Regions from separate parts of the Homo sapiens genome. Here all the other regions are linked to region 3. The links come from fine-mapping of genetic effects on gene expression. A gene starts in region 3. Each other region holds a variant in brackets. All regions are shown on one strand. Distances are between the middles of the regions. Region 1 has its middle 5.9 kb from the start of SNF8. Region 2 overlaps SNF8 (SNF8 subunit of ESCRT-II). Region 3 holds the start of ATP5MC1 (ATP synthase membrane subunit c locus 1).

Evidence for each region. PIP is the estimated chance that this variant, and not a neighbour inherited with it, causes the effect. A credible set is the group of variants that fine-mapping cannot tell apart.
Region 1: its variant is the best candidate, but not a certain one, in a credible set for the expression of ATP5MC1 in lymphoblastoid cells (GTEx, PIP 0.83).
Region 2: its variant is the best candidate, but not a certain one, in a credible set for the expression of ATP5MC1 in hippocampus (GTEx, PIP 0.58).

What each region holds. Positions count from the first base shown.
Region 1 is chr17:48,948,761-48,952,760 of GRCh38, forward strand. It overlaps the pseudogene RNU1-42P. Among named protein-coding and RNA genes, the nearest start is that of SNF8, 5.9 kb to the left of the region's middle. The variant A/G (reference allele first, on the strand shown) is at 2,350.
Region 2 is chr17:48,933,431-48,937,430 of GRCh38, forward strand. SNF8 (SNF8 subunit of ESCRT-II) reads right to left here. Exons shown (of 8, transcript NM_007241.4): 4 at 3,590-3,694; 5 at 2,740-2,812. Among named protein-coding and RNA genes, the nearest start is that of SNF8, 9.4 kb to the right of the region's middle. The variant C/G (reference allele first, on the strand shown) is at 1,759.
Region 3 is chr17:48,891,192-48,895,191 of GRCh38, forward strand. ATP5MC1 (ATP synthase membrane subunit c locus 1) reads left to right here and starts at 1,596. Exons shown (of 5, transcript NM_005175.3): 1 at 1,596-1,719; 2 at 2,218-2,265; 3 at 3,181-3,258; 4 at 3,965-4,000. The coding sequence starts at 2,227. LOC105371814 (a long non-coding RNA gene) reads right to left here. Exons shown (of 4, transcript NR_135674.1): 2 at 1,056-1,486. RefSeq lists enhancers at 412-1,391, 1,029-1,488, 1,499-1,618, 2,199-2,308, 2,349-2,398.

The DNA of each region.
Region 1 (4,000 bases), 58 kb after region 3:
AGACCCCGCCTCAAAAAATAAAAATAAAAAGAGCTGGACTGAGTTACAGTTTTGGAATCAACACAGTGAAATCATGAATGTGAATTTTACTAGGAAGGTTTCAAGTAAAATGATAAAAAGAGGATGAGAGCAAAGGTTGATGGCAAGACATGTAGCTGCCATTTTGGACCTAGAGGAATGGTGGAACCATGAGTCCAATGAGCTTCGATCCCTAAGGATTTTACAGAGCAGACTGTCATACTAGCCCTAGGCCACCAATCTCTGAGTGTTTATTTATTTATTTATTTTGAGACAGAGTCTTGCTCTGTCGCCAGGCTAGAGTGCAGTGGCACGATCTTGGCTCACTGCAACCTCTGCCTCTTGGGTTCACGCAATTCTGCCTCAGCCTCCCGAGTAGCTAGGACTACAGGAGCACACCACCATACCCAGCTATTTTTTTTTTTTTTTTTTTTTTGTATTTTAGTAGAGACGGGGTTTCACCATGTTGCCCAGGCTGGTCTTGAACTCCTGAGCTCAGGCAGTCCGCCCGCCTTGGCCTCCCAAAGTGGTAGGATTATAGGCGTGAGCCCAGCCTATTTTTTTTTTTTTTATTTTTAATTTTACTAGAGCGCAAACGCAGTCCACCGCTACCACAAATTACGCAGTCGAGTTTCCCACATTTGGGGAAATCGCGAGTCGGCACATCCGGAGTGCAATGGATGAGCCTCGCCCTAGGAAAACCACCTTCAGGATCATGGTATCTCCCCTGCCAGGTAAGTATTGAGTGTTTATGAGAAAGAGAAATAATGTCCTGTCTTACTGAAGCCACTATTATTTTGTGTTTTCCTGTTATTTGAAGCCAAATCTATCTCTTCTTTTTTTTTTTTTCCTTTTGAGATGGTGTTTTGCTCTTGTTGCCCAGGCTGGAGTGCAATGGCGCGATCTCAGCTCACCGCAACCTCTGCCTCCCGGATTCAAGCAGTTCTCCTGCCTCAGCCGCCCAAGTAGCTGGGATTCCAGGAATGCGCCATCACACCCAGCTAATTCTGTATTTTTAGTAGAGATGGGGCTTCTCCATGTTGGTCAGGCTAGTCTCGAACTCCCGATCTCTGGTGATCCGCCTACCTTGGCCTCCCAAAGTGCTGGGATTACAGGTATAAGCCACCGCGTCTGGCTTTTTTTTTTTTTTTTTTTTTTTTAGATGGAGTTTCCCTTTGTTGCCCAGGCTGGAGTGCAGTAGCACAATCTCAGCTCACTACAATCTCTGCCTCCTGGGTTTAAGCGATTCTCCTGCATCAGCCTTCCGAGTAGCTGCCACCATGCCCGACTAATTTCTGTAGTTTTAGTAGGGACAGGGTTTCACCCCTGTTGGCCAGGCTGGTCTTGAACTCCTAACCTCAAGTGATCCACCCGCCTTGGCCTCCCAAACTGCTGGGATTACAGGCGTCAGCCATCTTGCCCAGCTGCCAAATCTAATTTTTTTTTTGTTTTTTTGGAGACGGAATCTCGCTCTGTTGCCCAGGCTAGAGTGCAGTGGCGCAATCTCGGCTCACTGCAACTTCCACCTCCTGGGTTCAAGCAATTCTGTCTCAGCCTCCTACGTAGCTGGGACTACCGTGCACACTGCCATGCCCAGCTAATATTTTGTGCTTTAGTAAAGACGAGGTTTTACCATGTTACCCAGGCTGGTCTGGAACTCCTGAGCTCAGGCAATCTGCCCGCCTCGGCCTCCCAAAGCGCTAGGATTACAGGCGTGAGCCTCTGCGCCCGGCCTTTTGTTTTGTTTTGTTTTTTGTTTTTTTTTTTGAGACAGAGTCTTCCTCTGTTGCCCAGGCTGGAGTGCAATGGCATGATCTCAGCTCACTGCAACCTCTGCCTCCCGGGTTCAAGCAATTCTCCTGCCTTAGCCTCCCGGGTAGCTGGGACTACAGGCGCACATCATCACACCTGGCTAATTTGTGTATTTTTAGTAAAGACAGGGTTTCGCCACGTTGGCCAGGCTGGTTTCAAACTCCCAACCTCAAGTGATCCACCCACCTTGGCCTCCCAAAGTGCTGAGATACCATGCATGAGCCACCACCCCCAGCCATCATATGAGGTCTTAACTACATAGCTTCCAAACACAAAACTTGGTCCCATAGGTACTCACTGACACCATCTAGATATACCTGCTTCCTCCCTTACTCTTTGACTCATTATACAGTGCCCTAAGGTATACACACTGATCCGCTCGCTCACAGTGAAGACCTTAGATTTAATCATTCATGCCTTCAAATGCATACACACATGCCTAGTCCCTTTTTTTTTTTTTTTTTTTTGTGATGGAGTTTCGCTGTTGTTGCCTGGGCTGGAGTGCAATGGTGCGATCTC[A/G]GCTCACTGCAACTTCTGCCTCCTGGGTTCAAGCTATTCTCCTACCTCAGCCTCCGGAGTAGCTGGGATTACAGGCATGTGCCACCAAGCCTGGCCAAGTTTTTGTATTTTTATTAGAGACGGGGTTTCTCCATGGTGGTCAGGCTGGTCTTGAACTCCTGATCTCAGGTGATCCGCCCGCCTCGGCCTCCCAGAGTGCTGGGATTACAAGCATGAGCCACTGCGCCTGGACTTTTTTTTTTTTTGAAACCGAGTTTCGCTCCTGTTGCCCAGGCTGGAGTGCAGTGGCGTGATCTCAGCTTACTGCAACCTCTGCCTCCTGGGTTCAAGAGATTCTCCTGCCTCAACCTCCCAAGTAGCTGGGACTACAGGCGCTCGCAACCATGGCCGGCTAATTTTGGCTTTTTAGTAGAGACAAGGTTTTACCACATTGGCCAGGCTGGTCTTGAACTCCTAACCTCAGGTGATCCACCTGCCTTGGCTTCCCAAAGTGCGGGATTACAGGCGTTAGCCACCATGCCTGGCTATGCCTAGTCCCTTAGATGCACGAAATGGACCTCAATGGCTATGCTGAGTGTAGCCACACTCAGGCAGACATGCTCATCCTCCTATGCAGATACCTTTGTACCGTTTTATAATTTTAGGGAAAATATGCTGACCAGTGATATCCTGGTAAGGGTTTAACAACTACCTTGCCAGGTTGGGAGAGGGGAACCCTGATTTGTAGCATTTGCCTATCTCCATGGTGTAAATACTCTGATCATGGGCTTGATATGTTGCCAGGATGGTGTACGGTGGCTATTCACAGGTGCCATCACAGGGCACTACAGCTTTGAACAACTGGGCTTAAGTGATCCTCCTGCCTCAGTCTCTCAAGTAGATGGGACAAGGCACTCGCCACTGTGCCTGCTTCCAGCACATCACTGAATGCTGACCATTATGGAATCCCTCGTTTGCTTTAAGTGACTCATTGGCTTCGTGGCAGGGTGGCTAAGAACATGGTCTTTTTGCGGGGAGGGGCACGGAGTTTCGCTTTTGTTGCCCAGGCTGGAGTGTAATGGTGCAATCTCGCCTCACCGCAACCTCCGCCTCCTGGGTTCAAGCGATTCTCCTGCCTCAGCCTCCTGAGTAGCTGGGACCACAGTCATGCGCCCCCACGCCCGGCTAACTTTGCATTTTTAGTAGAGATGGGGTCTCTCCATGTTGGTTAGGCTGGTCTCGAACTCCTGACCTCAGGTGATCCACCTGCCTCGGCCTCCCAAAGTGCTGGGATTACAGGCGCGAGACACTGCGCCCGGCTAGAACATGGTCTTTTATTTTTATTTTTATTTTTTTTGGAGACAGGGTCTCACTATGTCACACAGGCTGGAATGCGGTGGTGCCATCATAGCTCATTGTAACCTCGAACTCCTGGGCTTAAGGGATCCTGTGGCCTCAGCCTTTCAAGCAGCTGGGACTACAGATGCATGCCACCATGCCTGGTTAATTTTTTTAAATTGTCATAGAGACAAGGTCTGGCTTTGTTTCCCTGGCTGGTCTTGATCTCCTGGGCTCAAGCCATCCTCTCACCTTGGCCTCCCTAAATACTGGGATTACAGGCGTGAGCCACCGCACTCAGCCTCCAGTTGACCTCTAAGGTTTCTTTCAGCTC
Region 2 (4,000 bases), 42 kb after region 3:
GACAGAAAATTTAGAAGACTGCACAACTGCCAGGCGCAATGGCTCATACCCATAATCGCAACACTTTTGGGATGCCCACATTGAGAAGACTGCTTGAGCCCAGGGGTTAGAGACCAGCCTGGGCAACACAGCAAGACCTTATCTTTACTAAAAATAAAAAATTAGCAGGGCATGGTGGCAATCGCCTATAATCCTTGGGAGGCTGAGGCAGGAGGATCACTTGAGCCCAGGAGTTCAAGGCTGCAGTGAGCTGTGATTGTGCACCACTGTACTCCAGCCTGGGTGACAGAGCGAGACCCTGCCTCTAAAATAAAAGGCTGCACAACACTCAACTACGTCAGTAAAAAGACAGGGTCAAGGAGCAATAAGTGATGCTTGGACAATCATGGGAGATACACAGGAGTCAGGCTGTCTGCTCAGCGAACCACTCATTCCAACATCCAGACAGCGGTCAAAGATACACCTGCAGATGCCCATCAGGAAATGTGAATGAGTGAGCTGAAGAGGCAATGGGGGTAGTGTCACCTGTGGCAAACTAGAGAATGCTTATCTATTTTAAAGGGGGCAACCCAGCTGACTATTATTGCCAAGTGGCAATTCAAACCCAATACTGCCAAGTTTTCTGATTCTAATTGAAATCAGAGAAAAAGAAAACCTACAAAACAGTGTGTAGATCACATATCCAGCCCACATACAGAGTTTAAAACCTCTGCCAAAGCTCAAAAAATGTTATCACCCAAACAGCCAGGGAAAGGGCACTTTTAGGTAGATTGGAATGCATTCTCCAACCCCCAAAGAATAGCAAACTGAAATGCTTCAAATGCTCACCCTCTCTTCATGAAATCTGCAATGAGTATGGCTAGTAATCTTTTGTTATCACTTTCCTTTTTTTTTTTTTTAGGAGATGAGGTCTTGGCTGGGCGCGGTGGCTCACGCCTGTAATCCCAGCATTTTGGGAGGCCGAGAGTTCGAGACCAGCCTAGCCAACATGGTGAAACCCCATCTCCACTAAAAATACAAGAACTAGCAGGGCGCCAGTGGCAGGTACCTGTAATCCCAGCTACTCAGGAGGCTGAGGCAGAAGAATCATTTGAACCCAGGAGGCGGAGGTTGCAGTGAGCCGAGATTGTACCACTGCGCTCCAGCCTAGACAACAGAGCAAGAGTCCATTTCAAAAAACAAAAAAAAAAAGTAGAGATGACGTCTTGCTCTATATCCCAGGCTGGAGTGCAGTGGTGCAATCATAGCTCACTGCAGCCTAGAACAATGAGTGCATGCCTCAACACCCAACTAATTTTATTTTTTGTAGAGACAAGGTCTCACTACACTGCCCAGACTGGTCTCGAACTCCTGTCCTCAAGCGATCCTCCCACCTCAGCCTCCCAAAGGGCTAGGATTACAGGTGTAAGCTATTGCACCCAGCCTCGTTACTTTTCTTTGAATATTCTAGGTCTTCAAGATCTCATAGTAGGCTGACTCTTTGGAAGTTACATCAAAAACAGCCTTTTATCTTTTCTCAAACTGGACTCGCACATAGAGGCTGGAGAACTAGATCAATTTATATTCCATCATCTCACTACCACCTCCTTCCCCAGCCTTTCTAGGCACCTACACTACTCTCCTTGGCCTCAAATAATCTCACGACTATATACAGCCCTGGCCAGCCGTGGTGTCTCACACCTGTAATCCCAGCACTTTGGGAAGCTGAGGCAGGCAGATCACTTGAGGCCAGGAGTTCAAAACCAGCCTGGCCAACAA[C/G]GTGAAACCCCATCACTACTAAAAATACAAAAATTAGCCAGGCGGCCAGGCGCGGTGGCAGACACCTGTAATCCCAGCACTTTGGGAGGCTGAGGCGGGTGGATCACGAGGTCAGGAGATCGAGACCATCCTGGCTAACACAGTGAAACCCCGTCTCTACTAAAAATACAAAAAATTAGCCGGGCGTGGTGGCGGGCGCCTGTAGTCCCAGCTACTCGGGAGGCTGAGGCAGGAGAATGGCGTGAACCCAGGAGGCAGAGCTTGCAGTGAGCAGAGATCACGCCACTGCACTCCAGCCTGGGCGACAGAGTGAGACTCTGTCTCAAAAAAAAAAAAAAAAAAATTAGCCGGGCATGGTGGTGCACACCTGTAATTCCAGTTACTGGGGAGACTGTGGCACGAGAATTGCTTGAACCCAGAAGGCAGAGGTTGCAGTGAGCTAAGATCGGGTCACTGCACTCCAGCCTGGGTGACAGCAAGACTCTTTCTCAAAGAAAAAAAAGACTATATATAGCCCCAAGTTTGTTAAAAAATAATACATGAAAAAATGCTTAGAAGGAACTACATTAAAATATATAGCAGTTGTAATCTCTTAATTGAGAAATAATGGTTTTTGTTTCCTTTTTTAAATCTATATTTTCTGTTTTCTAAAAATAGCCAGCCATACTGGCCCATGCCTATAATCCCAACTACTTGGGAGGCTGAGGTGGGAGGATTACTTGAGCCCAAGAGTTTGAGGCTGCAGTAAGCAATGATCTTGGTAGCAGTAAGCTGTGATCATGCCACTGTACTCCAGCCCGGGCAAAAGTGAGACCCTATCTCTTATTTTTTGTTTGTTTTTTGTTTTTTTTTTTCCTGTATGATATGGAGATCATACAGATTTCTAAGCTAGCCTAGACATGAGGAATAGGGAGAAAAGAGTTCCATCTGAATTTTAAAGACCTCTTTCTGTACTCCAAGGGATTGGAAGACAAGACCTACTGACTGACATCCTGGGCGAACTTGCCCCTTCCCTTCAACACCTGTTGATGTAGTTCCTCCAAAGTTATCAGACCTGTTTGGAGACAGGGAACAGAAATCAGAAAAAGAGATTACCCACTTTAAATAAGTTGACAGTCATTACAATTCCAGTGGCCTACAAGTAGCAAATAACATTCTAGTTCCTAATTTTTTTTTAACACTCTCCTTATGAAATAACTGACCATAATATGAGAAATGGATTCTGAGACCTTGCTAGGCCTGTCAACAGAGAGCTACGAAAATCTAAAAACAAAAGCAGTATCATCTTTGAAAAACTATAAATGTCCTCTTGACATCAAGGCCGTGTCTATTTATAGTTGATGATGATTTGTAAATGGTTTTAAGTTTTCTTTCTGTAACTTCAATCCACACCATTTAACGTGCTTACTAAGAAAGATGGCATCACCAGATGACAAATTTTAAGGTCACATTTTAGGGAACACAGACTCAGTTGGCATTCCCATACGTCGGAGAGACAGTGCAGGACTATAGTTACTAATGAGAAAATCACTCCAGACACATCAGACATCAGGGGAAAAGGCCTACTTCCTACCTCTCTACTATTTTCTGTACTGACTAGGGACTAGACCTTCCTGGCCAAAGATCTTTGGAGAACAGAGACAATCGTTCAGGTAATTCTATTTACCCTTGGCCATGGAGACTTGCCATGGATTCAACTGCATGAAACAGCTAAGATGTCTCTCAAGTCCTTAGAGGCCTGTAGACTGCAGGATGGAAACGATAATCTTTTACGGTTTTCTCCCTCTCAGAGAAGTCCAGAGTCCAGTTCACAGGACCTAGCCACCCTCACCTCCATTCCGATGCTTCAGCGCCAGGCACACTTCGATAATTTGGACACCTAGTTCGTAATAGAAGTCCCCCACGCCCAGCATCTCAGACCAAAATCCTTTTCCAGCTACAAGACAGAAAAACAAAATCTCGGTTATTGATTAATTTACATCCCTTCTTTTCTTTCAAACCTGCATTAAAACATCTATCATATGGGAAGTCTTCCCTGCATGGCATGAAGTTCTTCTGCTCCATCTGCTACTCAGGAAACAATCGGACTCACGGTAACTCCTGCTGAAGAACAGGGTCAGACGGCTCCAGAGGGCAGGCAATCTAAAAGTCATTTCTGGCCGGGCGCAGTGGCTCACGCCTGTAATTCCAACACTTTGGGACATCGAGCTAGGTGGATCGCTCGAGACCAAGAGTTCAAGAC
Region 3 (4,000 bases):
GCTGAGGCAGGAGAATGGCGTGAACCCGGGAGGCGGAGCTTGCAGTGAGCCGAGATAGCGCCGCTGCACTCCAGCTTGGCAACAGAGCGAGACTCCGTCTCAAAAAAAACACATGATTTTATTTCCTGTTTTATTTCTGCTTATTTCATCAAGTGAAAATATCATAACTTATTTCACCTTTTACTGTCAGTGGAACATTTACTTGTTTCCAATTTCGACAAACTCTGCAAATGCACATCTTTTTAAAAGAATCTGCATTTCTGATTCTTCAAAATAAATTCCTAGAAGTGATATTACTGGATGAAAAGTGGATGGAGAGCTTAAAGGCTCTTAGTTACTCAAGAATTACTGGGTCAAAGAGGATGGCCCATTCACAGCCTTTGAATAAAAATAAATATTGCCAAACTGCTTTCAAGGAAGGTTTTCTAATTCATCCTCTCACCAGCAATATAGGAGAGCGTGTGGCTCACATTAATAAAAAGAACTCTGCTGTTTTGAGCAGTACTAAGCGGAGCGTTTAAACTTATATTTCTTTGATTAGGAAGGCTGACATTCGTTCCTGCAATTCATATTTCTTCCTTACTGAATTGCCTGTTCCTATCCTTTGCTCGTTTTTCTATAGGGATATTATTTCATTCTTTCAGTGTTGTTTTTACAAAATAAACAATTTTTTTGTTTGTTTTTTCCCCCGAGACGGAATCCTGCTCAGTTGCCCAGGCTGGAGTGCAGTGGCGCGATCTCGGCTCCCTGCAACCTCGGCCTCCCGGGTTCAAGCGATTCTCCTGCCTCAGCCTCCCAAGTAGCTGGGATTACAGGCACGCGCCACCACCATGCCCGGCTAATTTTTGTATTCTTAGTAGAGACGGGGTTTCACCATGCTGGTCAGGCTGATCTCGAACTCCTGACCTCAGGTGATCCGCCCGCCTCGGCCTCCCAAAGTGCTGGGATTACAGGCGTGAGCCACTGCACCCGGCCCAACAAATGTTTTAGAAAGCCATCTGGATGATAGTCCATGACTGCTGAACACCGGCTGAGGTCCACAAAACTGCGCTCACCGCTTGGGGACTTTCCAGCCGGCCTTTACTCTCCATGGAAAGCGGTCTTTCCACAAACCTCCACGGTGGGAATTACTGCAAAGGCATCGGCTCTCCCGGCCTAGAATATCTCGCGGGATCTCAGCTGTCCTTGGGCCCCCCCCCTCAGCGCAACTACCAATCCCAACATGCAACGCGCCCCGTGGCCCAAGCGCCCGAATGAAGGCTCGGGGCCAAAGTCATGTGTCTGACTGCGTCACACGTCCCGTCATCTCTCCCACGCCTTTTTCTTCAGCGTACACCTTGGTCGCCATCTTGTGCGCGAGGTTATGGAACCTCTGAGTCCCGCCAACTCTATGGTCGAGCGTTTCAGGGATCGGCCAATCGTAATCCAGATCTCGTAGGAAAGCCCCGCCTCTATCCGCATGGAGGCGGGAATTGCCACGAAGCTCCTGTGGAGGGAGAGGAAGCAGCTGCGGAAAGCCAATAAGAGTGGGGAATCGATGACGTCAACCAATGGGGACGCGGGGATATTACGGCCAATGAGAATGGAGAAGGTCCAGGACACGTGGGTGGGGGAAGCTGAGCGCTGAGACCAAGGGCTAAAGCTGGGAGGTGAGTCTGTCACCTTGAGCCGGGCGAGCGCTGTGGGCCAAGCAGGGGTTGCAGGGTAGTAGGAGTGCAGGTGACTTGGGGCCGGGAGCCAGCAATAGGCAGGGTTGTGGGCTGGGCAGTGTGGAGGGGTATTTCCCCCCAGTGCTGGGAGAGGCTATGGCAATCTAGATATGGCCTTATCAATGAATGTTAATTACCAACGGTAATGAACGATTGACTGCCTCGGCTGGGGCGGGTCGGGGACTGCTGTGTAAGATGGGCAGGATCCTGCGCGACACCTGCCCAGTATCCGCCTCCAGTCTTCCCGAGAGACCATTCCCTTTCGCAACATTTCCTTCCTGGGGCTTGGGCACATTTCCTTGACTTCCGATCTCCATGACTTTGCTTTGAAGACCCACTGCTCTGTCCCTCTGACCTCTAATGCCCTCCTCAGCTGGGGCACGGTGCAAGGAAGAGCGTGGTCTAGGGAGGACGGACGGGGGTGAAGGGGACGACCAAAGGTCGTCATTATAAGCAAACAACCAGGGTCTCAGTGGGATTATTATTACTATTTTTTCCCCCTCTGCAGACTGAAAAAATGCAGACCGCCGGGGCATTATTCATTTCTCCAGCTCTGGTAAGGTGCCGCGCCGCAGTGCTCTGTAGTACCAGGTGTATGGTGTGGACGCCATCAGTGTTTAATGAATGAACCCAGGGGAGCTTGGCGTCCTGATGATGTAGGCTCTTTGAGGTGGCTGTAGGATGTGATGAAGGTAACCCCTGTTTATCTGGGCCTGTGAACCAAGCTATCTTGGCTTTGGAATGTGGTCAGAGAGTCTGGATTTGATTTTTATCCCCAGTCTGTCCTGGCCATAGAGACAGCCCACTAAAACAGTGGTTTTCAACAGTGGCTGCACGTTAGAATCATCCAGGGAACTTTTTAAAATCCTGATGCCTAGGCTGCACCTTAGACCATTTGCATCAGACTTTGGGAATGGGGGTGGAACCCAGGCATCTGTATCTTTTAAGACTTCTCCAGATGATTCCACCGTGCAGCCAAGTTTGAGAACCACTGCACTAAAAATTATTTCAAAAAAGCCATGTTACAGATGGCTCTCCTTGGATGGCTATTCCAGTCGGTTTCCGGGGCTGACTGGCCCACTCCATTTAGGGTGTGTAGCTGTGAGTGTATTTTAGCAGAATAAAATTTCCCCCATCTGATTACTTGGTGATCTGGGTATAAACCTTTCCTGTACCTGCTTTGGTATTAGTGTGGGTTCTTGTTCCATTCTGAGAAGCTGATTAAAGCTGTGCCCAAAGAAGTGAACTTTGGTTTGGTTTTGAATGGTGAAGGTTGCCACTGCTGACTATATCAAGCTATTGAGACAGCTGTCTCTGGGGCAGGCCTATCTGATAGGAACAGGAATAAATTGACCTTGAAATACATTGAACTTATTCTGTTTATGAAATCTGTAGTCATTTTTGACAGCTCAGCAATTAGGATTTTTTTTCCTTGACTGATTTGGTAGGATGTGGCTTTCTGATTTTACAGATCCGCTGTTGTACCAGGGGTCTAATCAGGCCTGTGTCTGCCTCCTTCTTGAATAGCCCAGTGAATTCATCTAAACAGGTAAGGGAGGAATAGCTCTCTTAGGAATGTTCCCAAGGCCCAGGATGGTGGCTCACACCTGTAATCCCAGCTCTTTGAGAGGCTGAGGCGAGAGGATCACTTGAGCCCAGTTGTTCAAGACCAGCCTGGGCAACACAGTGAAACCCCATCTCTACAAAAAAAATAAAAAAATTAGCCATGTGTGGTGGCATGTGGCTGTAGTCCCAGTTACTCCAGGGCTGAGATGAGAGGATTGGTTAATCCCAGAGGTCGAGACTGCTGTGACTATGCCACTGCACTCCAGACTGGGTGACAGAGCAAGACCCTGACTCATAAAAACCCATTAATTAATTTTTTTTAAATCAAGGAATGTTCCCAGACAGGGGTCCTTCAGCTTAAGTTGCCTTTAGACCAAAGTGGGAGGAGAGTTGGAGAATCTGTATGCTTTAATAGTTCTAAGTCCCCCAAGGTAAGCCTTGTAGGTAAGAAACTTATAAAAGTGAGGTGTGCCTAACCCATGAAATTTCCCTAGTCCTGTCTGCTGTCTGACAACAGACTCTAAGACTAATTCCCAGCATACTCTGCAATCAGAGTATTCTGCATTTACCAGGCAGTTTGCCAACAGTTTCAGAGCTCAGGTGGGTGGGGTGAAGGAGGTAGAGTCAGCCACCTGTCCTTATGCCATACTATCTCTCTGCTATCTCGCCTGCCTTGCTTCTCTTTCTAGCCTTCCTACAGCAACTTCCCACTCCAGGTGGCCAGA